2 linked regions of the Homo sapiens genome follow. The protein of the gene in region 2 interacts with the protein of the main gene of each other region in a biochemical or structural test. Each region holds a gene or a part of one and is shown on either strand. Other genes may lie near its edges. The genes, in order: TXNDC5 and EDEM3.

Region 1 (15,683 bases), on a different chromosome or scaffold from region 2:
CTAGCATGGCGGGACCGTCATTTTTCTCTTGCAAACACATTCTCTTATAAACAGGAAAACCCAACACTGATGAATTAAAGGTTATCCAAGTATAAAAGCCATCTAAAACAGACACAGCATTAAATGCAGTTTCTCCCTAATGACAGGGACTGCCTGCTTAAATTTAGTATCTCTTCACACCTTTACCAAAAGTTTAACTAGGACTTTCTTTGTAGCCAGGAGCCACCTAGGAAGTGTGCCCCCTTCCTTCCAACTTACGTGGGGTATCCTCGCACCCCCTGGGCGGAGCACACGTCGGAGTGGGCCGTGCAGTCCACTTTAGCCACATAGACTTTGGCATCTTCCATGCTGTTGTATTTGTCTCCCAGGTCATTCCAAGTCGGCTGCAGCCGCTGGCAGTGTCCACACCTGGAACAAGGCAAGAGTACAAGCACATTGAGTATCAGGTCACAGGGCAGCTGGCCCACAACTTCAGCTCTGTCCAGGGGACAATGGGGCTCTCAGTCCTTTCTTTACACCATTGCAGATGGCAGCTCCTGGACCAGTACTCCAGGACCTCTCTCCCCTGCTCCCATCCCTCCAGAGTCACTGCCCTGTTCTCAGCATGAAATCTTGGCCTTGTTCCAGTATTAAACTTAGCAAAGTGTTGTTCTGGATCCTAGTTGTTCTGGCCCTGCTGACCTCCCGCTTGACTTCTATCCCAGAGTCCACCCTCCTTCCCTTGTGGCCTACTCCTGAGCCCTACTGCAGCATCTGCAGTGTTCCCAAAGGACTATAGCTTGGCTTGGCCCTGGGACACATTCTCTCTGACACTTCGTCCCTAAACTCCACCTAGCTAAATCTATCTGCCCTTCAGGTTTAGTTTGGGTGTCACTTCCTCTAGCAAGTTGGCCCTGACTCCCCGGGCTGTTCAGCACCCATTCTCTTCTCCTGCCCTTCTGGAAAGCCTCTCTACTCCTCCCTTGGACAGTAGCTTAGCACTTCCTGCTGTATCTGCTACTTTTATTCGTCAAGTCTCCTCCACTATATAACCAAATGGCTACAAACATAAGGCAATCTCAAAATTTAATCACCTGCAATTTTCTCCAATGAGAAGGGGAAAAAAAAAGTTTGTGGCCACCTATACTTCTAGGGTTGAAGTAAGCAAATGTCTATTCTTAGTATTCATTGTATGAATTCAGTTATGTATAAATATTTTAAAATCACCCATCATTTAAAATAGTATCTTAACTAGGCTTCTTGCCATGCTTCACATTTCATGAGGATATCAGCATCTTTCCCAACACTAGACCTTAAGTCATACAGCTGACCACAGCTCTTGCTGTGTTCTCTGGACAGTATGTCTACAGTGCCATACTCGAATTTTGAATGAGACAACCCTAGAAACTTTATCCCAGGTTTCAACTACAATCCCATAGCATTATGACACATGGGTTTGTTTGCTATTTAATATGGCAGGAACACACTGATGCCTACAATGTAACCACTTTGCTGTATCGCTTTTTAAAATGCTTTTTTTTTAAACACACTTGCTTATATGAACACTCAACGCTTAGAATTGTGACTTCTTCCTCAAAATAATTTAATAATCTGTTAAATCTCCTTTTATTTTCTGACAGATTACCTCAAAAATAAGCATTTAAGTCGGTAGCAGTGGCTCATGCCTGTAATCCCAGCACTTTGGGAGGCCAAGGCAGGAGAGCTGCTTGAGCCCAGGGGTTCAAGACTGGCCTGGGCAACACAGTGAGACCCCCATCTACAAAAAATTTTAAAAAATTAGCCTGGTGTGGTGGCACACACCTGCAGTCCTAGCTACCTGGGAGGCTGAGGCAGAGGGATCACTTGAGGCCAGAAGTTTGAGGCTGCAGCGAGCTATGATCACACCACTGCACTCCAGCCTGGGTGACAGAGATTTTGTCTCTTAAGAAAAAAAGGATTTAAGCCGGGTGTGGTGGCTCACACCTATAATCCCAGCACTTTGGGAAGCCGAAGCAAGCGGATCACAAGGTCAGGAGTTCGAGACCAGCCTGACCAACAAGGTGAAGCCCCATCTCTACTAAAAATACAAAAATTAGCTGGGCATGGTGGCACACGCCTGTAATCTCAGCTACTCAGGAGGCTGAGGCAGGAGAATCGCTTGAACCCGGGAGGCGGAGGTTGCAGTGAGCCGAGACCATGCTATTGCACTCCAGCCTGGGCGATAGAGCAAGACTCCATCTCAAAAAAAAAAAAAAAAAAAAAAGAAAAACAGACTTAAAGGTAGCACTGAAAAAGTCTGCTTCAAGTTAATGTGTCTTCCCTAAACAGCACTTTCTTGGCCAGCTAAGAGAATCCCTGCTTTATGAGATACTCAGATACAAAAAAAAAAGCACAATGAAACTATACATGCAGATTTAACTTCTGTAGATTCAACAAAGTGAGTTTATGTGGCGGGGGAGAAGGAAACAAGAAAAAAAAAAAGGCAATTCCCACAGAACCCTGAAGTGTGTGCAAGCTGGGAGATGTGAGGTTTTTGTTCCTCAGCAGGCCTTGGTTCCTACATGCTTCTCATGGCATGAGCATCTCTCCGACTACATTAAGTGTGACCCTGCTGTCTAAAGGCACAGGTTTGAGAACTAGTCCATTTGGTGTTTAACCAAAGAAGCCATGATAGTTCTAATGCTGGAGGAAACGCTGGCAGTGGGGACTGACTGACTGACTGGGGCGGTGTCCAACAAGGCACCTTCCTAAGGGACTGTCAAGGGCAGTTCTGACCTTCAGGGGACTTTGATCAGATATGCTCATTCTGGAACTTTAGAACTCCTCTGCAATCTTGACAAGGTTTTGTTTTGCTACTGCTTTTTTTTTCCCTTTTTTTTTTTTGAGAAAACACAAGATTAGATTAAGAATGAGAATAAACAATAAATAAGTTTGTGGTGCGCTAAATCAAAACTGACCATTCTGGGCCATCACCAAGTTGGGCGTGCCCTTGCTCCTGGCTGTGATGGGGCCACAGGTGCTATCTAGTCGGCCCTGCGGCTACAGCACCCAACTCTGAGACAGGCAGCTGCACTCAGAAGGTAGCCTGTGGCCAAGAAGTAGAGCAAAGCTACCTGGTCCAAATCTTGACCTCACTGTCACCAGGTTCAGGGTGACTCACAAACTGGCCATACAGAAGTTGTGACCTGATGTTGGCAAAAAATCTACAGCAGCAGGATAACCCTGCAGAAGCCAAGTGCAGGGCAAAAATACACAGATTGATGTTTTTGTTACAGGGGCCCCAGCCCCTTAATCACACGTGGGCTTTCACCACTCCACGGCAGCTGAAACTGGAAAAAGGTATGTGTGTGTTGAGGGGGAGTCCACTGAGTCTTCTATCTGAGCTCCAAACGCTCAGCTCACCACTCCAGGACCTCCTTCCCTCTCCTGCATAGACCCCTCCAGAGTCACCACCTTGCTCTCAGCCTTACAACTTACCAAAGTGTTGTGCCAGGTATTGTTGGTCCTACTTGATCTTGCCCCTGCTGACCTCCCATTTGACTCGCCGCCCACTCAGCCTCCTTTCCTGGCAGCCTATTCGTGAGCCCTACTGCAGTATCTGCAGTTTTCTGAAAGGGCCCTCTTAAAAGTCCAACTTAAACACCATCATAGAAACCCACATATCTCTGTTTAAGTATTTGTAGTAGACTATCAAGAAGTCAACAAATATGCCAGGTGCGGTGGCTTACGCCTGTAATCCCAGCACTTTGGGAGGAAGAGGCGGGCAGAACACGAGGTCAAGAGATCGAGACAATCCTGGCCAACATGGTGAAACCCCATCTCTACTAAAAATACAAAAATTAGCTGGGCGTGGTGGCACGCACCTGTAGTCCCAGCTTCTCAGGAGGCTGAGGCAGGAGAATCGCTTAAACCCAGGAGGTGGAGGTTGCAGTAAATCAAGATTGCGCTACTGCACTCCAGCCTGGCAACAGAGCAAGACTCCATCTCAAAAAAAAAAAAAAAAAAAAAAAGTAACAACATAAAGCTAATTATTCTGGAAGCATCCAGCTAAATGTCTACAAGCCACATATAATGGAAAAGGAATTTACTTAATACCAAGTGCCCAGATGTGCCAGTTTTCTCTCACTCAGCCCAGGACTAGCTGGTATTTATTGCAAAGATTCTAAACTTAAAATTCCTTTGGCACTGTGGGGACTTATTACATCTGCATGTCAGTTTTTCTTTAAAAAAAAAAAAAAAGTAAAGAATGGGATGCGATGGCTCATGCCTGTAATCTCAGTACTTTGGGAGGCCAGGGCAGAAGTACTGATTGAGGCCAGGAGTTTGAGACCAGCCCCGGCAACATAGCGAGACCCTGTTTCTACCAACTACAACAAAAACAACAACAACAAAATAAGCTGGGTGTGATGACCTGCGCCTGTAGTCACAGCTACTTCAGAGGCTGAGGCAGGAGAATCACTTGAGCCCAGGAGTTAGAGGCTACAGTGAGCTGCGGCTGCGTACCACTGGTTTCAGGCTGGGTAACAGAGCAAGATCCCATCTCTAAAATAAATAAATAATGAAGAAAGAAAAAAGAAAACCCATCGACAGATGTATTCCACTGAAATAGGCTCCAATTAAGTAGTACACTTAATTGAAATAGTTGCTGAGAATACTCCCGAACAAAGAGAAACTGTTAATACTGCCTGATTGTTTTATGTTACAAAGTAATTTCTAAACCATTGGAGTTGTAAAAATTCGAGTCAGTTGGTTCTTAGGAATGTGAAACATAATGTACTTCATATACACATTGTTAATAAACCCACAGTGGCCCTAAAAGTTGATTTAACTCCAAATGAACTGAAACGCAGTAATAGCCTGAATACAAGGTTAAGAGAAAAACGTTTCTCCCAGTTTGAAAGGTACAATTTCTGAACTGGCCATTTTTCTTAGGGTACCTTTTCTCTATGCCTCCCTACATCCCTTTCCCAAGTGAGCCTCTACTGAGCTCTGGGGAAGAATACCAAGTTCTGCAACAAGAACCTGCAGGCTATTCCAACCTCTCAAAGGTCTTGTGTCCTAAAATTATGGCTTTCTGCTCTGGCCTGTGGTCACTTCCCTTCCTCGGGGCATCCCGGCACTGGCAGGAAAGCTGTGCACATGCTTGTGTGAATGACAGGAAGCTCTTCCGTGGGATGAGTGCCAGGGTAGGGTCTCTCAGGTCAGCAGCGAGGCCCACACCAAAGCCTCGCCCAGAGAACCAAAGCAAGAGGGACCATCTGCTCAACGGAGGGGCTTTTCCGATCTCACACATAACAAGTGACCTGGACCCGAGAGAGCAGCAGGGAGGTGACAGGACAGCCTGGAGTTGAGGACCAGTGGGCTCCGTTCAGAGATTACATCCACCCTGAGCTGCAGGGGGGCGGAGGGGTTCCAGAATTCGCACTACCTTGGTCTTCCCGGGGTAGCTCAGCAACCCTCCTCTGCCCGGACCACTCCTTCCTATCCCACAAAAGACGCACAAAGTGGGAAACCACACCTTCCTGGGTTCTATTTTTCAGTTAAAGCCTCTGGAAGGGGACGTGCCCGCAGTCTGTCCCAGCCGACCCCGGTGGCCGCGGCAGCAGCAAGGCCGCTCTGGTGAGTGCACGTGGCCCACGGGCAGGCCGCGCGTCCGGCCGGCACAGGAAGTTTGGGGCGCTGGGCAGGGACCGCGGGGTGACATTTGGACTCCCGGCTGCCCGAAAGGGCGACGACCCCACCTTCCCCTCCCTCGGTGCCGAGGTGCAAGAGGCGGTTGAATTCAGGAGCGCGGCGCAGGGCGGGCTTTTCCCGGCTGTCCCCTAGGGGTCCGCCCCCTCCTCCCGCACCGCCCCGGCCGCCGAGCGCCACGTCAGCCGCCAGTGCCCGGCCCGCTGAGCTCACGCCTCCCGACCCGGAGCCCCAAGCCCTCGGTCCCCTGCAGTCCCCGGCTCCCGGCCCCGAGCCGCGGCGCCCGCGCCCCCCGCTCCCCGCCAGCCGGAGCCCCGAACCCGCAGGGTCCCCGCGCTCCCGGCCCCGCGCCCCCAGTATTACACCCCGCACCCCTGAGCCCCGAGCCCCGCGCCCGTAGCACGCACGCCGCAGACCAGAGCCGTCGGCGTCCACGTGGCCCCGGGACCCCCCGCCCGCGGCGCCCAAGCGCCCCACGCCCCGCGAAGCGCCAAGTGCGGGGCAGGGCGCCGGCCTGCGCGGCGTTACCAGGGCGCGAAGAACATGACGAAGTGCGCGGCGCTCTGGATCCCGTGCGTGAACATGTCGGCCGTGTACAGGTGCTTGCTGTGCGGGTCCTGTCCGTCCTCGCCGTCTGCCGCGGGGGGCCCGTCCGCCGCCGCCGCCGCCGCCTCCTGGGCCCGGGCGCCCCAGCGCCCGCCGCCGCCATGGCCCAGCAGCAGCAGCAGCAGCGCAGTCAGGGCCGCCGGCCGGGCCAGCAGCGGGAGGAGGCGTCCTGGGCGCGCGGGCATCGCGGCGGGGCTGGGCGCGCTCTCGCCGCGGCCTCCGGTCCCCTCGCAGCGCCCGCCCCGCGCCCCGCCCCGGAGAGGCCGCGCCCCTTCCTCTCCCCGCCCGCCCGCGCCGGCGCGCGACCGCTACCCGCCCGAGCCCCGGCTCCGCGCACCGGCAGGGAAGGGCTGGAGCGAGGGACCGAGTCTGGGAGAGCCTTCCGAGTCCGGCCTCCTGCCTTCCCGCCATGGGACGGCTCGCCCCAATCCCGCGAGGCTCCTGCGCCTCCGCAACCCAGGCCCGCACCCCTTTCCCCAGGGGCCCGCTCTGCTCAGAGCGGCGGTGAACACACGAAGTAACGATGAGGCCAGCGGGAAGCCACGGAGGGGCAGGTCAGCCTCGGCTAATCTCAGCTCACACAAGCACCCCGCGATTTCAGGCCAAAGGAAGGAGAGAGCTGCTGTCAGCAGAATATAGGAAATCGGGCAAAAGACGGTGGGGTTTGCACCTGAATTAGTTAGATTCTTGGCCAGAGCTCAACTGTGATTCTCGACCTGGGCTCAGAGGGGTGATGAAACCCGCTTCCCAAGTGAACCCCTTGCTGGTTACCCCTGCCCGGCCTCAACTCAGGGATGAAGAGGAAAGAAAGTCAAAGCGGCCTCTTCTAGACAAGAAGGCACCTAGCAGGACTGACTGGGGTCCTACTGTGCCCTCATTTATGCCGGTTACTAAAATGAATGACAGCACGCCTGCTATGGCTGAACTCAGCCTGTGGAATGGCCCGAAGGCATCCCTGCCCAGCGACTCATAACTCGCACCTGCACACACACCTTACAGCAGATGGTAATCGAAAGCTCCAGCCCTACCCCGGGGATCTGAAGCTAAATTAGAATCACCGGGTTGCTCTCCGGGATCCTGCCTGCTCTTTGATTATCCTCAATCCAGGAAGCCCCAGGTAGTTAACTCCTGGCTTGGCAACAGGGGACGCGCCCACTGTCTCACCTGTCATTATTCTGCTCCCGCCTTAGGCCCAGCCACTTATGAACCTTTAACCATGGGTTGCCAAACACCAAAACCATCAATCTCCCTCCAAAGTCTGTTCTTCCAGCCACTTAAGCTTGAAACATGGGAGGCATCTTGTATTGCTCGCTCTTTTCCCGTGTGTCTCAAAATTCAACCGCATTTCCTGTAACCATGATTTCCTTCCAGCATTCTCAGTGTTCATACCCTGAACGGAGACTAAGCCTGGCCTATTGCAGTAGCTTTCTAAGAGTCTCTTTCATTCACATGGCTGGAAAATTAATTTTCCTAAAGCCTGCCTTTGACCAAGACAGTTTGCTGCTTAAACTTGGACCAAAACGCCACCACTGTCCCCATGGCCTTGGCCGATGGGGTGAAATAGTCATGCCTGGGGCAGCCATTCAAGGCCTTCCGTGATGTGGTTGCATCATGCTTTGTGTCCCTGTGAAACTCACTCAACACTAGAAATCCAGGGATTCTCTCCAATAACTGTTATTGCCAAACTCTAATCCCTGTGTTCTCCAACACCTCAAACCTCCCAAACCCTTCCACGGTGCTGTTGGGAAATTCCCACAAGCATCGCCATACACTCTTACAGCATCAGTGTCTTTCGTTTTTAACTGAAACACAGTTCTAGGAGCTCTCTCAAGTGTTGGCTGCTCATTCTTTCACACCTGGAGTCCCTCAGAGCCAGGAAGTAAAGCTGATGCCTTCCTGGTTCCCCATTGCTCCTTCCAAATCCTACAAAACCTTCAGTACTCCTTAAATTGATGCCACTGGGCATGGCACCCTCTTCCCTGCCAGTTCCTGTCATTCTTCCACATCACTCTTCCTGGTTCAGTGAAGACTTTGGTTCCTGGCTCACAGTGTTCCTGGCCACCCCTTTCCTGTCTTTCATTCCTGGCATCTTCAGCATCCAGGTGGATGCTCCATCTACCTTTCCCTCAGTAACTCACACCCAAAAGGGAGACCCTAGCACTTGTCATCACCAGCATCTGCACCATCTCCAAAATCTGAAGGCATCCACTCTGCCCAGCACCTCCTCGACTGTTTGCTCAAGAAACCCATTTCTGCAATGCTTCTTTCTCATCATGACCTCTGAGCTACCCACCCCACCATCTTCTACAATCCCCTCGCAGCCCAACAGACTGCTATGTCTTCTCTTGCCTCTTGGCCAAGTTACAGCCCATGGAGTCTCACCCTTCACTTCCTGCCCTGCCACATTCTCCCCACAGATGCTGGTGAGCTTTGTCTCTCTGGGTTCCCTGTGCCTTCAACCAGGTAGCCAGACTCTGCTGGAGAAAAATCGCACAGTCAAGCCGCATGTCTCCTTCACACTGGTAAAAATAAGCCTTAAATTCCTCCTCACCCCTGCCCTAAAACTGACTACCTCTGCCTAGGCAGTGTGCTGCCCCACTCTCTGAGATGCTTCCATACTTCCACTGACACTGCTCCTCCTCTCCTCTCCCCACCCCACCCTGTCAGTCGCCATCCTCTCAGCTGCCAGCTTTATCTCATGTTTCTGAGAAAAATGAAGCCAAAAGCATGAGCTCCCTTATCCCTCCCCCGCCAAATCTACACACCCCTGCACAGGCGCCTTTCCCTCTGCCCACAAAGGAGCAAGTCAGTATATCCCTGCCTAGCAAAGCCCAGTCCTCCAGAATAATGCCCCTCACGGATAACCAGGTCCTAATTCCTGAAACATCTGATTGTTTCTTTATATGGCAGAAGGCTTTGCAGGTGTGATTAAATTAAGGGTCGTGAGCTGGAGAGATTACCCTGGATTATCTCGGTGGGTCCTAAATGTGATCACAAGTGTCCTCATAACAGAGGGGCAGTAGGAAATTTGACTACACAGCCGGAGGCGACGTAACAAAAGCAGAAAGAGATTTGAAGATGTTAAACTGCTGGTTTGGAAGATGAAGGGGCCAAGAGCCAGGAAAAGCAGCTCTAGATGCTGGAAAAAGCAAGGAAATAGACTCCCCCTCAGAGCCTCTGGAGGGACCTGCAGTCCTGTGGACAATTTATAGTCCAGTGCAACTGGTTTTGGACTTCTGACCTCCAAAACTGTAAGAGAATAAACGTACGTGGTTTTATGCCACCAAGAGTGTGGTGTTACAGCAGCCCTAGGAATCTCATATGCCCTCCCTGCTCCCTGCTCAAAGGCTTTGTTCTTCAGCTCCTCTCTTTCTCTCCTGCACAAGTTACTCATCACTCCTTCCTACTGGACCATTTTCATCAGTGTATAAGCAAAAAAAAAAAAAAAATTATCTGTATTTCACTTTCCATTCATCCTTCAGCTCATGCCACTCTGACTCTCAAACCTGCCACACACCAAGTCTTCTCAAAGTCACTGAAGATGTCCACATTGACAAGTCAAATGAACACTTTATGTTCCTCATCTTCCTGGGCTTCTCAGCAGCGTTGGTACAACTGCCATTGGCCCCATCTGCATCCACCGTCCTTTCTGCTTCTCTGATCTACCTCCTACCATCCCCACGTCACTCCTCAGTCTCTTCAACCCAACCTTTGATGTCAGTTTTCAGCGCTCAGCCTCCAACCCACTTTTGTTTCTCTGCATCACTCCCTAGGTGATCTCATCCATAGCCATGGCTTTAACACCATCTATATGCTGCTGCCAAAGTGTACATTTGCAGCCGAGGCCTCTCTCTGAGCTCTCACTATCTACAGGATGCCTCCTCTTGTTTGTCCTGCAGGTGTGCTGAAGCTGACCTTGTGCTTCCCTGCAGCAATCTGCTTGTCCTCCGATTTCCCCTCCTCAGTAAATAGTTCTTCCTCGCTGTTGCACAAACCAGAAACCTGAGTTGCAAACTTTGTCTCAGACTCCTGGCCTCAAGTGATCTGCCTGCCTCAGGCTCCCAGAGTGCTGGGATTACAGGTGTGAGCCACCACCCCCGACCTCTGAGTTGTAAACTTTGTTACCCTTTTTCTTTATTGCAGTGCCTTGATCCCCGCCTCCTACTCGATCTCCCCATCAGCAAGTCCAATCATTGCCATCTCTGAGCCACAGCTCCCACTGACTGATATCTCTCCACTGCTGCCATATCCTTCTCTTCCTGTCTGCTACAGTAGCCTCCTGAATGTTGTTTCCACTCTTAAGTCCTTCCCATCCATCCTTCATCCAGCAGCTAGAATTGAATCGTGTCACTCCTTTGCTTAACTTCCTTCAGGGGCTTCCCTTCACATACAGTCAAATTCCAGCTCTTTGCCTTGGCTTGCAAGGGCCTTCAGGAAAGATGCAATCTCAACCCATACCACTCTGCCCTCTGCTCGCCTAGATTCTAGCCATTAGGGATGATTCTAGATACCCTCCCAGCATTCCCCTTCTCAGGCCCTTGTGTGTGGTGCCCTGTGCTTGTTCCCTTCCTGTCTTCTGTGACTGGACTCCCTGCACCCTCAGGTCTCTTGCCCCCACGCCACCTCCTCAGTGCCTGGCGATTGCCTTTCCACATTGACAAGTCAAAGCCCCTCTCTGCAGCAGCCTCCCTCTGCCCACTGAGCTCTCACCAGTGCCATGCTGTTTAATTTCTGCATAACACTTTTTGTCATTTGATGCCATTTTGTTGCAGACTTAGCTGGTTAAGGTGGCCGTCTTCTCCATCAATAAGCTCCCCGAAGGCCAGGGGCTATTTGCCACATTCACTTCTCTCTCCCTAGCACCCAAATGCCTGGATACAGTTGAGGCTCAACAAGTGTTGGATGAAGGAACCCCTCTTTCTAACCACATCTCTTTCCCAGGCTCCACCAAAACAAACTGACTCACTGTGCCTGGCACCTTCTCTCACATGCGGCCTTTCCTGCATGACCCGGCCACCCCTCCACACAGGCTGCTCAGCGTCACTTCCTCTGAACTCCCAGCCCTCCCAAGGGACTGACATGTTGCTTCATATGGTAGCAGCCACACATGGTCCTGCTTAGATTCCCATCGCCAAGCAGCGTGGCTTCCAGCTCAGAAAGCCTAAAAGTGAAGATACAACTGAATTTGTGTACAGCGATGAAATAATACAATGTTCTCAGTAAAAAATTCCCTGACCTCCAGCTGGGGTTAGGCTTCCTGCACTAATATCTTGTCCTTTCTCCCCATATCCCTTCACAGAAGGGTAATTATTTGGTTGTGTGAATTTTGTTTAGCCTCGGACTTTCCCTCTAAACTGTAAGCCCCATGGCCTGAGAGGTGTTTACGTGATGTCTGGTACACAGCAGGCATTTAATACCTGATATGGTTTGGCTGTGTCCCCACCCAAATTTCATCTTGAATTGTAACTCCCACAATTCCCATGTGTTGTGGGAGGAACCCGGTGGGAGGTGATTGAATCATGGGGACAAGGTCTTTCCTGCACTGTTCTCATGATAGTGAATGAGTCTCATGAGATCTGATGGTTTTAAAAAGGGGAGACTTCCTTCATAAGCTCTCTTCTCTTGTCTGCTGCCATGTGAGACGTGCCTTTCACCTGCCATGATTGGGATGCCTCCCCGGCCACTTGGAATTATAAGTCCAGTAAACCTCTTTCTTTTGGAAATTGCCCAATCTCAGGTATGTCTTTATCAGCAGCGCAAAAACAGACTAATACGATACCTGTTTGTTGAATGAATGCATGAAGGAATGGATGAAAAGTCACATTTGTCTACCCTCAGAGGATGGCTTGCTTGAGAGAGACCCCCCTCAAAATCATGGCCTTTCCCAAGCAGAAAAGGCAATAGGTATGTTGGTCTGTATTGTTAGAAGTTAGTACTACTTCTAGCAAAATAGTATTGCTACACTGCCTTCTTTTTTTGAGACAGATTCTTACTCTGTCACCCAGGCTGGAGTGCAATGGCATGCTCTTGGCTCACTGCAACCTCTGCCTCCTGGGTTCAAGCAATTCTCCTGCCTTAGCCTCCTGAGTAGTTGGGACTACAGGCACCTGCCACCACACCCGGCTAATTTTTGTATTTTTAGTAGAGACGGGGTTTCACTATGTTGGCCAGGCTGGTCTCAATCTCCTAACCTCGTGATCCACTCACCTCGGCCTCCCAAAGTGCTGGGATTACAGGCGTGAGCCACCACGCCCGGTCTACGCTGCCTTCTTATTGCAAATCCACAGCCTTCAAGGAGCTGCACTCCCTTCCGACAGCAGCCCTGTAGGTGCATGGCAAAGCCTCTCGTTGGAAGCTGTCCTCATCCCAGGGAGCACATAAGAACTGACATGGGAGGAATGGCTACTGAATGGGAAAAATACAGCTTTTGTTTTCCACCTCCAGAGGATAACACAAGACCCAAATGTGTTGTAACATTGTCAAGACAACCCCAGGACATTCAGAAACTGAAATGCCACCATTTGAACCACTTTAACAGGTGCATCCTGAGTTATTATTGGGCGAACAGTACTGCTTTTAGGAGGTACTGAAAGCATTTACATCCTGTTGTTCTAATTTGGTCAGAACACCTTGGTAGGTGCCTCTAAAGAAGAAGAAAAACTGTGTTTTTCTTGATGAGCTCATGTGACCATTCAAATGTGATTGTTGAGAGGTGGAGAAAAAGCTAGAGGATTGCTCTCATCAGAGAAAATCTAAAGAAAAAGACCAAAGTGAATTCCCAGGCTGGAGTCACACAGGGAGTAGAGCTGTTTTCAGTGTATTGAAATGGTTAATGGAAAGGTCATATTTACTCACTACTCTCACAAGCTCCTTGGGCAACACAGCCTACTAAACAATTAATAAGCACCAAAAACCCACATTACATTATAACATAACAGATTCGGGTATTTGGCAGATAAAAGCTTTCAAAATCCATGTGGGATCTGTGAGGTCTCGGGGGTAGGGGGGAGGAGAATAAAGAGAGTTTCTTTGTTGACTGGATCATGACCACTAAGCTGAATGATCTGTGCTGTTTCTCAAAGTGCACAGAACACTCACTCCAGCTCCCAGGAGCTCATTCAGTCTGTGCAAGTGCTGGCTCTTCTCGTTCATGCCCCTGTCATTCTCCCAGCTCTTTGTCTGCTAGATGCTATTACAGGAGTTCTTATTTTTCCCAGAGTCCCCAGGTGCGGGGCCGATAGGCTGATCCAGAAGCTGATGCTCACCAGCACCTGGACTTCATAACAGGAGAGAAGACTTCTCCCTGATGCAGGTTGCTCACTGAGTTGTTCCACTCCTCTCTCAGCTGCGCTGGCCTGCAGTGATGGCCTTGGCCTTGGATCTGTGGCATTCCACACGGGCATGGGGACATGCCTCTCACAGCACTTAGGGGCCAGCTCTTCATAGCTGCCTGAATTTCAGAACACTATTCCAAGTTCAGAATCCAGGAAAATGTTTATCCTACCTGGGGGTTCTCAATTCTGGCTGCACATTGCAATCATCTAGGTCTTGAAAGCAATACTGATGGCTTTGTCCTACTTCCTAGGGTTGAGAATTCCTGGGATTAGAGGAGACACAGCCAGGATCTCAGTCCCTGGTGCGCCTGTGGCGGACTGTAGCAGGGCTCTGAGAGCACAGATGTGGAGCAGACCACCAAAGGAACGCTGATGTTTGCTGGAAGTTAATAGGTGTTTTCTTAAGAGAAGAGCTCTGACTGAGACATGTTTGAGGAACACTTGGTTAGGGTTAGGGTTAGGAGATAGAGAAGCCAGGAACAATGCCCAAATTAGACCACAATACTGCTCAAATTAGATCACAATACTGCTCAAATTAGATCACAATACTGCCACCACTGCTACCACCTCGACATGCAGATTCCTCCTATCCCACCTCTGGTACAGGACACTATATGTGACCATGGGAACCTCTGCAACCGCTGCCCTGCAGGATGGACTTTGCATGACCCCTGCTTCTTCGCAAAACTAGCTTCCAATGGAAGCCTCACTGCAGTAGGGCTCAATGGTCTATGCTCTATCCTAACTTGTGGCGGTTAGGTCAGAGGCTCCACAAATGCAGGAAAGGTGTCCAGTGAAGCTGGGCAGCCTGAAAGAATGTCAACTGTTGATACATTGAGTCCTTTTTTTTTTTTTTTTTTGGAGACAGAATTTCACTCTATTTCTCAGGCTGGAGTGCAGTGGTGCAACCTTGACTCACTGCAACTTCTGTCTCCTGGATGCAAGCGATTCTCATGCCTCAGCCATTGAAATAGCTGGGATTACAGGCGCCCACCACCACACCAAGCTAATTTTTGTATTTTTAGTAGAGACAGGATTTCACCATGTTGGCCAGGCTGGCCTCAAACTCTTGGCCTCAGGTGATCTGCACACCTCAGCCTCCCAAAGTGCTGAGATTACAGGCATGAGCCACCACACCTGGCCAACACACTGTGCCTTGAAGACTACTTAAGAATTGGCTGGATGAAGTGCTAATGGAAGAAGAAAGAAAAAGATAGAAACCTATTTCCTAAATGATTTATCAGAGATTTTTATTTGCGATTGCACCATCTGAATTCCTAAAAGTATCCTATGCAGTATTTCCCAACTTATTTGATTGTGGACTCCTTTTTATTTGTGGTGTCTCTTGTGTTGTTAATCCTCTGCAGAACACTCTGTGAAGTATTATATATAGAAGCTTGGGTCGTATTTCACATGGAAGGATCAATGTCTGGTTTCCTTTGCTTATTATAGCTGCAACATCTCCTCTTCCATTGTGTGCATTTAATTGCAAGAGAATTCACTCAACAAATATTTATTGGATCTAGTCTGTGTCAGGCACGTTTTTAGGTGCTGAGGATCAGCAACAACTGAAATAGACAAAAACCCTAGTCCTAATGAACTTCCATTGTAGGTGGGGAAACAGCCAATACGTAAGATATAGAAGATAAACACTATGTTAGCCAGTGGTAGAAGCCCAGAAGAAAACAAGGCAAGGAAGGGGGTATGAAGTGTCAAGGTTCAGATGGGATGTCAGGGTTTGGATAGGCTTATTGGGGACATGGCTTTCAAGTAAAGACGTGAGGGAGTAACACATGTGAATATCTGGTTCCAGCCGAGGGATCAGCAACTGCAAAGGACTTAGAGCGAATGAATAAGAAGGCAGTACAGAATGAGAACACTGGCTTTTACGAATGAGAAGGGAAGTCATCGGAGGGTTTTCAGAAGAAACACGACAGGATCTGGCTTCCAATTATTTCTACAGCATGGCTCTGAGAGCTGTAGCGAGGAATGCGAAGGGGGCAAGGATAGAAGGGAGGCGACCACTCCGGGAGCAATTACAACCATCCCAGCACAAGATACTGGTGACTCACG
Region 2 (14,990 bases):
TTCTTGAGGAGGAGATGCGATTATAGGTGTGCACCACTATGCCCCACCTCGTGTGTATTTTTCATGTTCTCTTCTTTCGCTGACCTAAACTACTTATTTTTAAAAGCATAATGCTTATTTTGGAAACTTATGAAAATACTGACATATACAAATAAGGAAATAGCAATTGCCTACAATCCAAGATAACCACTGTTAGTATTTTGGCTATTTAACTCACTCCATGATTTCCACCACTCTCTATCCCCTCACCATAATTTTTTCTTCATAAACTCATTGTCCTTTTTACTTACTACTTTATTTTCTATCTTCTTTACCACATTTTGTCCATCTGTCCACTACAACCCCAGGTCCTATAATAGTGCCTGGCATACAGAAGGCATGCACGCCCTTAATCTTTGTTGAATAAATGAGTCAATGTCATTATATATATGTGTGTGTATATATATATAATGTGTATGTATATATGTGTATGGAGAGAGTGAGCAAGCGCTGGATCATAATTTATACACAATTCTAGAGTTTTATTCACTTAGCATTACCTTTGTGCATGCTACTGACTTGTTGAAAAACTTTCAGTGATTTCTTAGAACAAAATCCTTACTTTAGCCCACAAGCTTGGGTTTCTACAGCCTAAAATGTCCCCAGAATTCAATCCCCGGAGGATAAAATGAGTTTAAAAAAAAAAGGAAAACAGAGTGATAAACATCAAGACATAAAAGTATGAGGATATGCACAGTGATTCTAAAAATTCAAATTAAAACTAAACTGGAATATTTACATATTTTATTAAATCTTTACAATCAGTAATTATAATCAAATACATAATTATATACAGGATTATATACATTTTGCCCAGACTTTTACATCACAGTACATAGTTTCCCTTAGAAATATTGTATACATTTATCACCAAACAATAAAATCCAACAACAGTAGTGTTACAGCACCTGTTAGTACAGACATCTTTTTCATAAATTACATCATAAGAAAATATACGGCTGTAAATTGGGCTTTTAAAAATGTCTTTTATAAAATCTGAACATACAATATTTCATTCACAGAATGTTTTTTTTTTCTATGTTCTGACTGAAGCCTTGTGCATAAAACGACCGGCTGGAATATTTACTAAATTCTACCCCCCTCTAAAATTATAAGCAGTATTTGAATTACTTATGCTGAGCTTTCTTCATGATGAATTTGGCATGGGGTTTGGTGAGAGAACAAATGTTGGCTTTACTATAAAAAAGGTTGTGTGATGGTAATTTAAATTTTAAAAGCTTCTTGAGAGAGTAATTACATTAGTGAAGTTAAAATCAGAAAGTGTACAATTTTTCTTTTTACTAATACTGTAAAGAAAAAGGGAGACGTATAATGCCAAGAGTTAATTTGTTCTGAAACAATTATACTCTTTTTGGAAGCCTATTGCAATTTAAGAAGAAAAAAGAAAACTTGCCTAACAAAATATCCCATACCAAACATATCTAGTAAATTACAATTCTTTCACACTTAAAACTTTATGGGAAAAGTATTGCAAATAAGGGCATATCATTTCAATGAACTTTTATATGCAGAAAAAAACTAGCTATTTTATTTTTAGTAGGTAAACAGGTTAAGTTTTAAAACTTGAAAATACCTGAATTAAATACTTGCTCTAATATCTCTTAAAGGATTTCAGCTAAAATCCTTGATTCCAGATTTGTAAACATTATATAAATCTTTCTTAAACAATTTTATGGCTGTGGTGATCACTTCAGCTATATTTCTAAGCAGTCAACATTTAACTGAGGTAGACCAGATGTTTCTAAATTCGGGGTTTCATAGAATCCCCTGAATCTTTAGCAAGTTACTAAAATGTCTATAAAAGTTAACTAAAAAACAAAACACTAAAAAAAAAAAAAACAACTAATGCCTTTGGAATTTTTAATGAACTCAAAAACTACTTTGTGGCAGTATGTCAAGTAAGTAAATGAATGTAGAGTTGTAATTACAACGTTGGAGTTTTTTAGACGAACATTATCTCCTCTTTTCTTAACTAGGGAAATATTGAGTATAATTCCTTCTGGGTATTAAGAAAAATTGGTTAAATTTTTTCCTTTTCTTTTTTTAAGGATTTACTTTTCTTAACAAGTGAACAATTTGCTTCTAAGCGTCAATGAAAGGCAACACCTCCCTCTAATGGCCAAAGGAAGAGAGTGGCAGTAAGCTGGCTTTTCCAATGTGTCACACAATCCTTCATGCCATTAAGTTCTCCTTGTTGGAAAAGAAATTAGGTTGTTTTGATAACTTAGAAAAGTTAGTTTTAGACAACAGTGACTTTCAGCTACAAATACAAAATCAAATCCATGTATATAAGGCTTCTGTAATCGATGTCTTAGAGGAACATCTGCTCATTTTCTCCAAGCCCCAGTCCTATAAATCAAGGCAAGTCAAGTAATTAAGCTTCAACTATTTTGGCAGCTTTGCAATTAAAATGAACAAAGCACTATATCTATCCTTCCATATACTGTATATATTATAGTTCTATCTTGTTACACCAAATCTCACATGCAGAGAGACTAAAAATATCCATTTTGGTTTCAGGTATAATTAAAAGCCAATAAGGGTCTTGCATACTATTCTTTTTCCCCTCCCCAAAGTGAATTCTCCATCAGATTTACTACTCCCTGACTCAATTATATTTACCTGGAATATCTGAATGCAGGTATTTATCCTCTCAGAAAAGAATATGTTTACCTGGGATCTAAACATACTGTACACGAATATACATAACTGCAATACAGCACTGCTGTTTTTAACAGCTCCACTTACACCTCATCAGTACCTCACAACCGTGTTTTAGGAAAAAGTTTTGTGTAATGTTATGGTAAAGAGAAGAAAATTATGTCTCTTAAATATTCCTTTAGAACAAATTCAGGCAAGTTTAAAAAATAAATAAAATGAATAAAGCCATGATTTCAACAACAGGGCTGTCTACAAACATCAACAACAAAATTTAAAAATTTTTAAGACTTAAATGTGGCCAGCACCAGACTACTACAACAACAACAAACCAAAAAAAAAAAGGGGGGGGGTGGAAGTCTCATTAAGCTATATAGCTATATGTAGTTGTATTGTACTTTTTTTTTTAAACACAGGTCACCATACACTAATTTTCAAGTCCGTATCAGAAGGAATATCTGTTAAAAACAAAAACAAAAACCATGATTCAACAGAAAATGTGACAGATTCCTTAGGTGCAACTTTAGAAACCTAAGTTTCAAAGGAGAAAAACAGTAGTTACTCCAGGAATTTTAACTCACTAACCACAGTTCTATCATGGCTCTGTAAGACAGAAAAATGGAACAAAATGTATATAGCTGTTGGCGATACGAGCCTTGTGGCTCAAATTGCATACCAAACATGGGATGGAGTAAGGCTGATGGCTAGAGGTAATCACCTCTAAGAGAAATGAACTGGAAATGATTTATAATCTACCCTACAAGGATATAATGCTAGGTTCCATTTCAGAGTAGTCACAGCTTTCCCTATGGAAGGCCCAATGGGAGGTTCATATTGCAACATTACAGTTTCTCCCTTACTCCATTTTTCAGAAGTATTAAGTAAGCAATCTCCACAATGTATTATATGACCTTTTTACCTGGTCCCACTGATTAGTCTTTATGCAGAGAACTCACTGAGAAAGTACACTGGCTTCACCTTTGGTTTAAATAAAAAAGACATTGTTAAGAAGGAAAAAAAATCAAGTCATCTTGATCATTTGTCACTAAATGAAACAAGAGAAAGCAATGAGCAAAGACTGTTTTCACCATAAATGCATTTGCTTCATAACCACTTAGGTCACTTAGAGTGTTTTGTGAAGGCAGCATAATCAGAATGCCACAATACTCGGATGCATCTTCCCAAAAGAGCCTCTAACCCCCAAAACCAAGAAAGGCGAGCTTCCTTTAATTAGAAGGCTATCCAAACTCCTATTCCCCACTCCACTACTAAATGAATTTTGTTTCTTGTCTATCCAGAGACAACAGAAATCTGGTTCGCAGGAATGCTCAGTAATCTTTCCCTGGCCTGAGGTGTTGCAGGGTGGTGCAGTGCTGCATTTGAAGGGGGAACTGTGGATTTCCATTTTTGATGGGACAGTTTTAAACAAGGTCAATTCTAACACAGCATGCTCCAGATTCCTACGATAACTACGCCAGTCAGAACGTGGTTGTTCATCACCATACTTAAAGCCTCCCATTAGAAAGCCTGCTTAGTATTAGGATGTCTATTAACCACACACAGTTTACCTTTTCTTTTTAAATACCTACCAACAGATTGTTTAGCAAGTCATAGCTCATCCTTCTCCATCATTTCAAATGCTTCTATATCTTCATTCCAGTCTGCTAATATGGAGTCTATAGGCTGGACCTTTTTACCCCAGCTAACATTAGGATTGGAATCTTCCTCAGTTTCTGATTGTTCTTGAAGCTGGTTATCTAAATCTGTACATTCACCATTAAGATTTGTAGTCTCATGGTTTTCTGTGGGATTAGAAGTCTGTTCAGAAGGGGAAATGCTTGCAGCATTGTCCATATCTGCTAGAGATAATGATTCTGGGTGAGAATTTAGAGAATTTTCCTCAGAAGACTCTTGATCAACCAAATCAACCTCCTGAGAACTTGATGAAATCTGTTCACCACTCTGATTCTGAGAATCATTTTCAGAGGATGGTTGTTCTTCATTTTCCATTTCAGGATCTGTATGAGAAAGAAACAAACCTCATGCTACTTCTCTAAAAAAATGTACTATTACACTTTCCAAAGCATATTGGTTTTTGCAACAAGATGAAATAAAACGTGAAAGAGACTCATGTTAATGCAGAAAGGTGAGCATCAGCACTGAAATGAAGACTGTCTTTATGCAGTCACATTTTCCTATAGATTCACTGTGCAAAATGTGTCAGTGTTAGAAAATAAACGTTCTTCCAAATTGGAAGGAATGACAATAACTAAGACTGACATCAGTGGACATTAGTAAGCCAAGAAGTACGCTAACCAATAATAATATTAAAATATATAGAGATTTGCAATGTATGGCTAAAATGTATTAGATACCTAAAGCTTATGCATAAGAACATATTAAACAGAATCAATTTTAAACAGCATATATCATTGCTATATTTTCAAATAATATTCCTTTGAAAAGTGAAATTCCTACTCAGTAAGTCATAAAGAAGCAGATAACATAGATTTTTTTGAATGACTAAGGGTATTAATGTGACTGATCAGAAATACTTTCACAAGACAAGAACTGAGATTATTCATAAAATTCTATTATTTTAGGCCTATGAATTATAAGATATAGTCATTTTAAAATCCACTGGAAGGCTGAAGAGTGAGTTAAACCTCTTATAATGAATATACAGTGAAACCAGTAGAGGCATTTTATTTAGGGTTCCTACAAGAAAGTGCTTAAATAGCATCGACGCCTACATGCTACATCCTGTTCAGTCTCTGCCTCTGTGATGCAGTTGGCCAGCAAATATCCTCCAAGTCATCATTTGCATAGTGCTAGGGATAAAATGAGGAGCAATACCAAATGCTATACCTGCCCTTATGGGTCTTATAGTCCAACGGGAGAAAAAGATATTATACAAATAATCACGGAAAATAAATAGAAAACTCAACTGTGACACGTTATGAAAGAGAGATAAGGATTTTGGATGCTCAAGTCCCTTATGTAAAATGACACAGTATTTGCATATAACTGACACACATCCTCCCATGTACTTTAAATCATCTCTTGATTACTTTATAATACCTAATACAACGTAAATGTTATGCAAATCATTGGTATACTGTATTGTTTGGAGAATAATGACAAGAAAAAAAATCTCTGTATGTTCAATACAGATGCTTTTTTCTTCTTGAATATTTCCTATCCACAGTTGGTTGAATCCATGGGTGCAGAACCCACAGATACAGAGGGAGAACTGTAAGGAGATTTGAGAAGTTTCTTCAAAAAGTTCCTTCAGAAAGTGACACTTGAGCTGGGGTTTAAAGTATAAGATAATGTCAAAGAAGGGAGGGAAGAGGATTTATTTAAAAACCAGAAAAAACAAAGGAAATGTAGACATGCAGGAAGGTGTGGTGGGTATTGCTGGGGCACAGAAAACAATTCCCCAAAATATGGTGCTTCAGCATGATGAATGCTTGGAAAACTGAAAGGTCTCAGAAATAAGCCTCAGAACCAGTCTGTCTCTGACCTTCCCCTGCCTCCCTGTCTCTCTGATCCTCTTTCCTGAAGCAACTGGGGGGATTCTCTCTGGAATTTTCTTATCTAAGGAAGCTTCTTTCCAAATGAAATGCAATTGTCTCAAGAATCCCTCCCTAGGACTCTCATCAAATAACGAGAAAAAAAATGAGCCATCAGAGAAGAGTAGAGACAGGGGTCCTCACCACACCCAAACAGACTTTTCTTCTGTTCTTCTGAGGACAGCTGAGAGATTAACTGGGGGACTTTATCTAGATACTATGCAAAGAGAATCCTTTACCAATCATTGTCTAAGCACTGGACCTCTTCATTCCCTAGTATTCCTCTACCCTAAGAAGAGGGTATTTAAGCTTCAACCACCTGTCCCCTTTCATATTTTGTATGGCTCCTGTGCACACACGTACACATAATAAAATTATTATGCTTTTCTGTTGTTAACCTGTTTTTGTTTTTTTTTAACCCGGGGTGTCCGCTGTAACCCTTTATGATGGGGAGGAAAGGATCACCCCTTTCTGCCCCTACAATGCATATATGTTCACCCTGATTAGATGGGATTACTTGACTCTGAAAGTTTACATTCTTAGGGTTTTTTTTCCGGAGGGGAGGATCAGCAGGGGGTGGATTGAGGAATTCCACACAATCTCTGTCTTCTAAGCTGTGAAAAAGGTACAATTTAATTAGGCAATTAGGGAAACCAATGGTGCAGACCAAAGAAAGAAGGTAGCTGGCTACTTACAGCTTATTTATCCTAGGTTCCCTAAATTCAAGAGAGAACAAAAAGAAAAATCTCCAAGTTTCTTTCTAGATTGTATTATTCCAGATTAGAAGGAGAGGAAAAGGTGTAGGGTTGTTTTACCTGGTAATGAAGATTGTGCTTGTGATAAAAAACTCTCCTAGGGTTACATATACGATATTATTTTGGAAATCTAGCTGATGTAATCGGACAAGAAAGTAGAATAATCAATGTAAATATAGAAAAAGATCAAATTATTTGTATTTTCAGATTGTGATCGTACACTGTCAAAGCAACTTTAATAAAAAAATACTATTAGAATTGATAAAAAAAATTTGGTAAGAAGACTATGCAAATACCAATAACTCCTTTGTAGTAACAATAAATAGTTAAAATATAATCATTAAACCTTTTCATAATAAAAAGCTACAAAACATAGAATTAAATTTATTATAAAAGGTATAAGACCCACGTTGCTTAAATAAAATCATAATGAGAACATAAAACAAGATTTGATTAAATTTATAGGTATATTCTTAAATGAAGTCTTAATATTTAACATTTTCCTAATTTATATGTAAAGTATGCAATTATATAATTTCAAAATGAATCTCATTTGTACTTCTTGTTTTCGTTTTAGAACCAGATACAATTAATTTAAAGTTTCTATGGAACAGCATATGTCAAAGAGAAGCCAAGAAATTCTAAGAATCAGTGAGGGGAGAGTTGCCCTATCAGATAATAAAATATACTCAAAACAGCAAACTTTTATTATTGGCAAAGGAATAAACACATTAGTAGAAGAGAAGGGTAAGTCTAGAAGCAGATCCAACTATGCAAGAATATTTGATATATAGCAAAGATGGTAGTTTAACTGAAGGAGAAATGAGTGGTTTGCTTCATAAATGGTATTTAGTAACTGACAACTCAATTGGAAAGACTCCTAACTTTTATTTTAAAATTCCATATGATTTAGAGACCAAAATGTAAAAAATGGTAAAAATGCCAGAAGAATTTAGGAAAATATTATGTAAAAACAGGATGGAGTGATCTTCTGAAGTGAGACAGAAGACCCAGGAGCCTCAAAGGAATTAATATTTCTGATTACCTAAAAATGTTATGAAAGTTACATAAACAAAGTGAAAAGATGACATGTTGGGAAAATTGTGTGTGTGTGTGTGTAACCTCTGTCCCTATATGTGTGTCTTTTCTAGATAATTTATAGAACCTCTATTTCTTTATGAGTATGTATGTAAATATAGGAAATGCGCACACACACAAACAGAGAGGTCCTATAAAATATCTAGAAAAGACACAGAATCTTATTTAAAGAAGGCAAAATGCAAAACATATGACTAGGCAATCCATAAAGAGAAAAAACAAAAAATATACCTATAAAGGGAAATATGCTGACTAAAATAGGAAGAAACATGTACTCTCATATCTTGCTGGAAAGGATGTGAATTGCTACAACCTTTTTTGGAATGCAACTTGCAACATCCATTAAAATGAAAACGACCCATATACTTTCTGCCAGCATTTCATTTTAGTAAATCTCAATATTCTAGAAAAAGTATGCATATCTAAGAAGATATGTACGAGAATGTTACCTACACCATTGTATACAGTGGCAAAACAAAAACCTGGAAATAATTTGGACGCCTAATAGTGACATGGTTAAATAAATTATGGTACAGTGATAATGCAAAACATAATGCAGCTTTCAAAAGAATAAGTTATGCTATCCTACTAACTTGGAGGAATGTCTTTAATATAGCTTTAACTGTAAAAGGCAAGTTACTGAATGATACATATATTTAGAAATGTATAAAGCACTAAGAAGAATATAAAAGATTACACATCAAACTGCTAACATTGGTTGGTTATCTCAGAAAGATGAGAGATTATTTAAAAGTTTTTAATACACTTCTGGATTGTTTAATTTGTTACAAGTTTAATTTTATAAAGTTTTTAAAAAGATACCAATAACTATTCTATGCAGCACTATAGGAAAGTCACCAGGGGCCAACTAAATTTAAATGTAGAGAAGCAGAGAGAGAGACAGAGACAGAGAGAGAGAGACAGAGAGAAGAACTTTGAAGAAGATGCCCATGGAAGAAAATATTTTGGTTTTCGCAAGCTGAAGGAGCTATAGAACCAGAAATAAAAGCAACAATCAGGAAAGTAAAAATGGCAGTTAGAGAACTACAAAAAGATAGAAGAGTTAAAGTCTGCCACATTGCTACAAATCTTGATCCTAAGGTGCCTGTTTTCACCAGTATGTGAGATCAAAGTCGTAAGAGCATAACAACCACAATATTAAATTCAGGAATGGTACATCAGAAACACAGAAAGAATGGAGAAAATCTCAAAATACAGAGAAACAAAATCAGTATGTTTTAATAATAAAAGAGGAAGTGAACCTTGGCAAAGACTTAGAGATTGGATGTTTTAGAACCATTCATTCATTCATTCATTCATTCATCTGTACATTAAATGTTTACTGAAAGCAAGGAATATAGAGATGAGAAGCAGGTAAAGAACTATTTAACTATCATAGTAGAACTGTATTAAAAGGACACCCTTAAATTTTACCTAGGAGGTGGCATTTGAAATTTAGGATATCTAAATGTTCTCAAAGAGGAAAAGGGCCATGGGAGAGGAAAAGGGATTGATAGGGAACTTCCAGAAAAAGGGAAGAGATGGCGCAAATGTGAAAATGCATGAGAAAACATGTCTTGGATGGAGAAGGGAAGGTTAAGTATCAATTCTGCTAAGAAGAATGTTTCAGATGTTTCTCTCCAGGTAGAGTTCATCTGCATATGTACTAGATTTTTCTCCTAGGAATCAAATCCTTTCCAACAGCAACTTAAGGTGTGCAGTTCAGCTGTAGAACAGATTCACACCAATCAAATTCAGTGGGGGATAATCAGGAAAAGTGACCCTGCCTGACTTAAATCAGAGCATTGCAAATGATGGAACCTTTTTTTTTCTTTCCTCCATTTTCTCTGTCTGGCTCTTTACCAGATAGAGACAAATACAGTTGCTTGAAAGCATTTGTCTAGAGCCCTTAAGGCACTATAGGCTTACACTCTAAGCTGCAAGCATGACAATGAATTGGAACTTAAAAATGCTGATGTTTTTTTCCCTGTGACAAATACTATTGAAAAAAGGAAATTTACTCTTAATTGTAAACTGCTTCAATTTGGACCTAAAGGTAACAAAACATTGCCTTTTGTTTGTGGGCACACGGTTGGAATAATTAAGTACCTTTACAAACTGAAATTTTGGAAAAATGAAACACTGAGAGATATGATATTGAAAATTCTGTTCAACAATAGACTGTGGATAGCTTAACTTTCAGAAGTGTCACAGGTTTGACCTAAGGAAGCAACATCACTTGATAAAATGCTAATGCTTTTTGGCTTCTAAATGTGTATTAAGATGACCAGAAAATTTCTGCTAGCAGAACAGTTTCAGATACATCTATACTAATGGCATGGACTTATCAGAAGAAGAAGACAGGAGTGAAGGCTTTTTAAGGGCTTCTATTTTCTGTATTAAATATGAAAAGGACTTCTTAATCAGCATTGTGTGACTTCATATGGAAAAATACGTATTTGTGGAATGACATTTCTAGAAAAGGCAATCTGGAGAACATTTTATTGTTCAGATTTTAAGGATGTTGTTACTTAGTGTACTTATATAATCTGTTAACTAGTACCTGTAATGGTACAATATGGCCTGATACATAGCTGGGAGACAAAAAAGGGGTGCTTTCTGAATCTTGTTCAATATTTCTCAAAGTGTAGCTGAGGAAGCAGCTACAACACAATCACCCGGGATGTTTGTTTGAAGTTTCAGATTCTGATTCCCAATCATAAAGTCTGAATCAGAAAGTCTGATTGAATATTTGGAGCAGGACTCAGAAGCCAACACTTCTAACAAGTGTATCTGTTGATTCTGATGCAGGGGAGAAACACTGATGTATGTAGTAATGGTATAGGACAAATGATAACCGCTACAGACTGTGTAGCTTCTTAGGATATCCTAAGTGAATACATTTGTTGATTTCATAACACTATTACCATTGATTTCTGTTACATTAATAAATATTAACAATTAGACTGTATCTTGTTGCTAATTAATATAGCTGTACAGTTCTATAAAGAGCTATTACACAAAAAGGGGGCTTTTCAATACTTTTATCAAAAGATCACTCTATAACAATCACAGTTCAATAAATTTATAGACTAAAGTTTTCAAAAAATATCTTTTAAATAATGCCCTTTTAATGCAAGGTCCTTAAGGGGATACTGTTCACCAAGAATTCTTATTTTCTGGTAGAATTAATCATGTCTCATAACCTTTCTCTGGTACAGGAAGCACATGCTGTACCATAATCCTGTAGTCCTAACCCATGTACCATACACACACATGAGCTTTTAAAACAAGTCAATACTTTAAATATTTTACATTGTGTTCAAATAAAATGTGATCAAAGTAATAAATACTAAAACAACAATGCCTTTGTTAGAGTGACTCTTGTATGGACATAGACATAGAATTCATCTATTGTATGGGATGTATAATTATTAGAATTTAAAATTATTATGTGACTGCTGACTAGACATGAAAATAATCTAATTACGTTACACAAGATATTATCATGGTATCCACTGAAACAAAATTATATATGTACTTGAGTGTGTGTACACACACCCAAATACATATATACGTATATAATTTAAGGCTTGTTAATGCAAGATACTTACTACTATTAATAATGTAGCTTGGAATCATTTTACCTTTTAATATTGCTGCTGAAATTCCAGTGGTAGCACAAAATAGGGGGAAAAAAAGCAAATGCATTAAAGAGTTACAAGAAATAATAATTTGCCTATGTTAGATGTGCCTAAATGCATATATGTAGGCAAGAAGATCTGAGTTTAGAAAAGGGCCCAGGAAAAAAAAATCAGGTATACAGAGGATTTAAGACTAGAAAACCTTTGTATTCTGTTCTGTTTCCATCTATACATTGTTATATACAAACAACCTACTTGCTCACTCCATTGCTCATAAATAATTGACATTTCAAAGAATCTCAAAGAAGAATAAAGCAATACAAGAAGACAAAATTAGGCTAGCATGATTATGCTAGCATGATTATCACCGAACATTTTTTTTTAAATGTCCCACTTGGAAGTCACATTGAATTGAATCAGTTTCCTACATATCTGTCAAACACCCCAGGGGATGTAACAACCCTGTACTATTATGCAACTTCATCTATTTAAGGGTATGGGAGAACTTTAGCTCTCTCTTCAGGTCTCTCCAGCAGACAGGAAAGACTGCTACCACAAGCAAGATCTGAAGGCTCACATTCCCTCATTTCTCCTCTATCCCTGGGTGTGAAACTATGTAAGAATACTAGTAAGGCCTTGCATTTATATTGTAATTTGGGTTTCAAAGACATTTCAAATTACTAACAAACATTTTGGCCTACAGAGGACTATCTACTCTCATAAATTAAGACATGCTATCTTGTTTTTCAGAAACAGCCATTTGTAACTCTTATATCCATGTGATAAACTTAGATCTCATTGGGAAGAAGCTGCTAGATTTCTATTGCCTTCACCAAGACAGCAGTCATTTGATTATAGGTGGCCTGTTGAGACTAACTACTATGATATTGTATACAACATTCTATATATGTCTTCTCATTCCTTATAAAAGACATGTAAGATGTAGTATCAGTGAAATCAAATTGTGAACATTTCCGGATGTTAAAATGGCTTTCCTGAAGCAGTCTCTTGTATTTTTATCACCTGAACAGACTCAGGGCAAAAATTACAAATCACACATAAAAACATATGTCTAAAAACATCCTAACTCAGAAAACAAAGCAAAATAAATGTTTTATTATTCTTATTTCCAAAAGAAAAATATATTTTGAAATCATCTTCTAAAAGTTTTACTTGTTTTCACAGTGAACCCCCCAAAACAATTTTTTGTGACTCATTCTTGTTATCAAACTAGCAAAATTAATATTACGCTGCATAAAAAAACAAATGGTATTTTACTCTTACCTCGATCTTTTGCTTTATCAGAGAGGAGCACTTCTACCTCCTCATATTCCCGGATGGCATCCAGTATGATACTTCCTTCTTTGCTGAATAAGAACAGCATGGGGATCTTGATGTCATCTGTATCCTTTCCATCACCTGCCATCTGGAACAGAGGGGCAGTATCACTGCTGCTCCCCTCATTGTCATCTAGCCAGAAAATAAATACAGCAAACATCAAAATATCCAGCCATTAAAAAGATCTATCTACTAATTGTTACTGATTTTTTACAATGACAGAATTAATTTTATGCATCAAGAACCATAAAAACCAACATAATTTTTGGACCCATTAATTCTCATAGAAACGTATCCAAAGGAAATAATTCAAAAGTAGCGAAAAGCCCTATGCCCAAATAATTTTACTAGACTATTTATAATTGTAAACAACTGTACACCATTATAAGTAAATTATAATGACCTACTTGATAGGACACACAGAATAATAATACATTTAAAAAGTAGAATACAGAATTCTATGATTATGACTATAAAAATTTCATATGCTTATGGAAAAGCCTAGAAAGGAAAAAATCAATGACTCGGATTACAGTGATAGAACTATGAATGAATTTTATTGTTGAAAATTTCCACTACTGGCATGATTACATTGTTTTACCAAACTAAAAATGGACATTTCTTTTTTATATAATGCACACAAAGAATAGTTATGACTATAGTGCTTCTTCCTCTATAAGCTAAACTAAACAGTATTGCTATTTTGCATTGGTTAAATAATAGTAGTAGAACTATTAATAGTAGTAGTACCAGCAACATGCTGTTTTACTGAAGACGACAATCACGACCACCTCCAAATCGCATGCCAGTCTCCCAGAAGAAACTATCTGTCCTGTCTCAGGGTGCTCACTCTCATAGGACCTGCTAAGTGCAGAATGCATGACCCATCCTCTTGGTAATAATTGATTAGACAAAAGATGGCTACCTGACCCTGAGTCTCTCTGGGGGACCTGGAACTGGCACACAGAAAGACTGTTTCAGTTAGCAGGGGGTAATAGTCCAGTTGAATGACACAGACTTAGGGGCTGAGGCTGCAAACTAGAATGGCCATTTTGGAACTGAGGAACAAAGAGAGAGAAGGCTGGTGAGAAGCTGGAAAATGAAGCAGAATTGCAAAGAGAAGCAGGGAAGAAAAGTTCAGAAGGACCCAGAGGTAGAGATACAGAGAGAAAAGTGAAAAACATTCACTATCATGGATCCTGGTGATTTTTAGTTCCCACTTCTACCTCCTGGTGAATCCTAGTTGTATTTGTACTGTTTAATTCACTAAAAATAATCCATTTCTGTGTAGTGAAAAAACCTCCCTTCTTAAACCAACGTAATTATCTCCTGCAGCCACATGATTTCTAAGATAATTCGTATTTCTAACCCTTGCAACAAAAAACAGCTAATTCCTAATTTATTCATTTATATACAATTAAAACAAAAACAAAATGCTTTGTCAGAAACAAAAAACTCAGGAGAAAGAAGTCAACACAAGAAAGTTTCTCATTAAAAATTAAATTTTTGGCTGGGTGCGGTGGCTCATGGCTGTAATCCCAGCACTTTTGGAGGCCAAGGCAGACCACTTGAGGCCATGAGTTTGAGACCAACTTGGCCAACACAGCGAAACCCCTTCTCTACTAAAAATACAAAAATTAGCCAGGCTTGGTGGCACGTGCCTGTAATCCCAGCTACTCAGGAGGCTGAGGCATAAGACCTACTTAAACCTAGAGGTGGAGGTTGTAGTGAGCCAAGATCATGCCACTGCACTCTAGCCTGGGTGACAAAGCAAGACTCTGTCTCAAAAAAAAAAAAAAAAAAAAAAAAAAAAAAATTTCTGAGAGTAAGGATCATCATCTCTTATTTATTTATCCACAGAA

The links.
Region 1: the proteins of EDEM3 (region 2) and TXNDC5 form a complex in vitro, tested with the Homo sapiens proteins (one study listed by BioGRID).

What each region holds. Positions count from the first base shown.
Region 1 is NC_000006.12:7,904,316-7,919,998, forward strand, and holds the start of TXNDC5 (thioredoxin domain-containing protein 5 isoform 1 precursor), read right to left. Parts: upstream 6,474-15,683; 5' UTR 6,462-6,473; coding exon 6,199-6,461; intron 5,763-6,198; exon of another isoform or gene 5,498-5,762; intron 409-5,497; coding exon 259-408; intron 1-258. UniProt on the Homo sapiens protein: Protein disulfide isomerase of the endoplasmic reticulum lumen involved in the formation of disulfide bonds in proteins. Can reduce insulin disulfide bonds.
Region 2 is NC_000001.11:184,689,737-184,704,726, forward strand, and holds the end of EDEM3 (ER degradation-enhancing alpha-mannosidase-like protein 3 isoform 2 precursor), read right to left. Parts: intron 13,261-14,990; coding exon 13,075-13,260; intron 11,809-13,074; coding exon of another isoform or gene 11,761-11,808; intron 4,737-11,760; coding exon 4,327-4,736; 3' UTR 501-4,326; downstream 1-500. UniProt on the Homo sapiens protein: Involved in endoplasmic reticulum-associated degradation (ERAD). Accelerates the glycoprotein ERAD by proteasomes, by catalyzing mannose trimming from Man8GlcNAc2 to Man7GlcNAc2 in the N-glycans.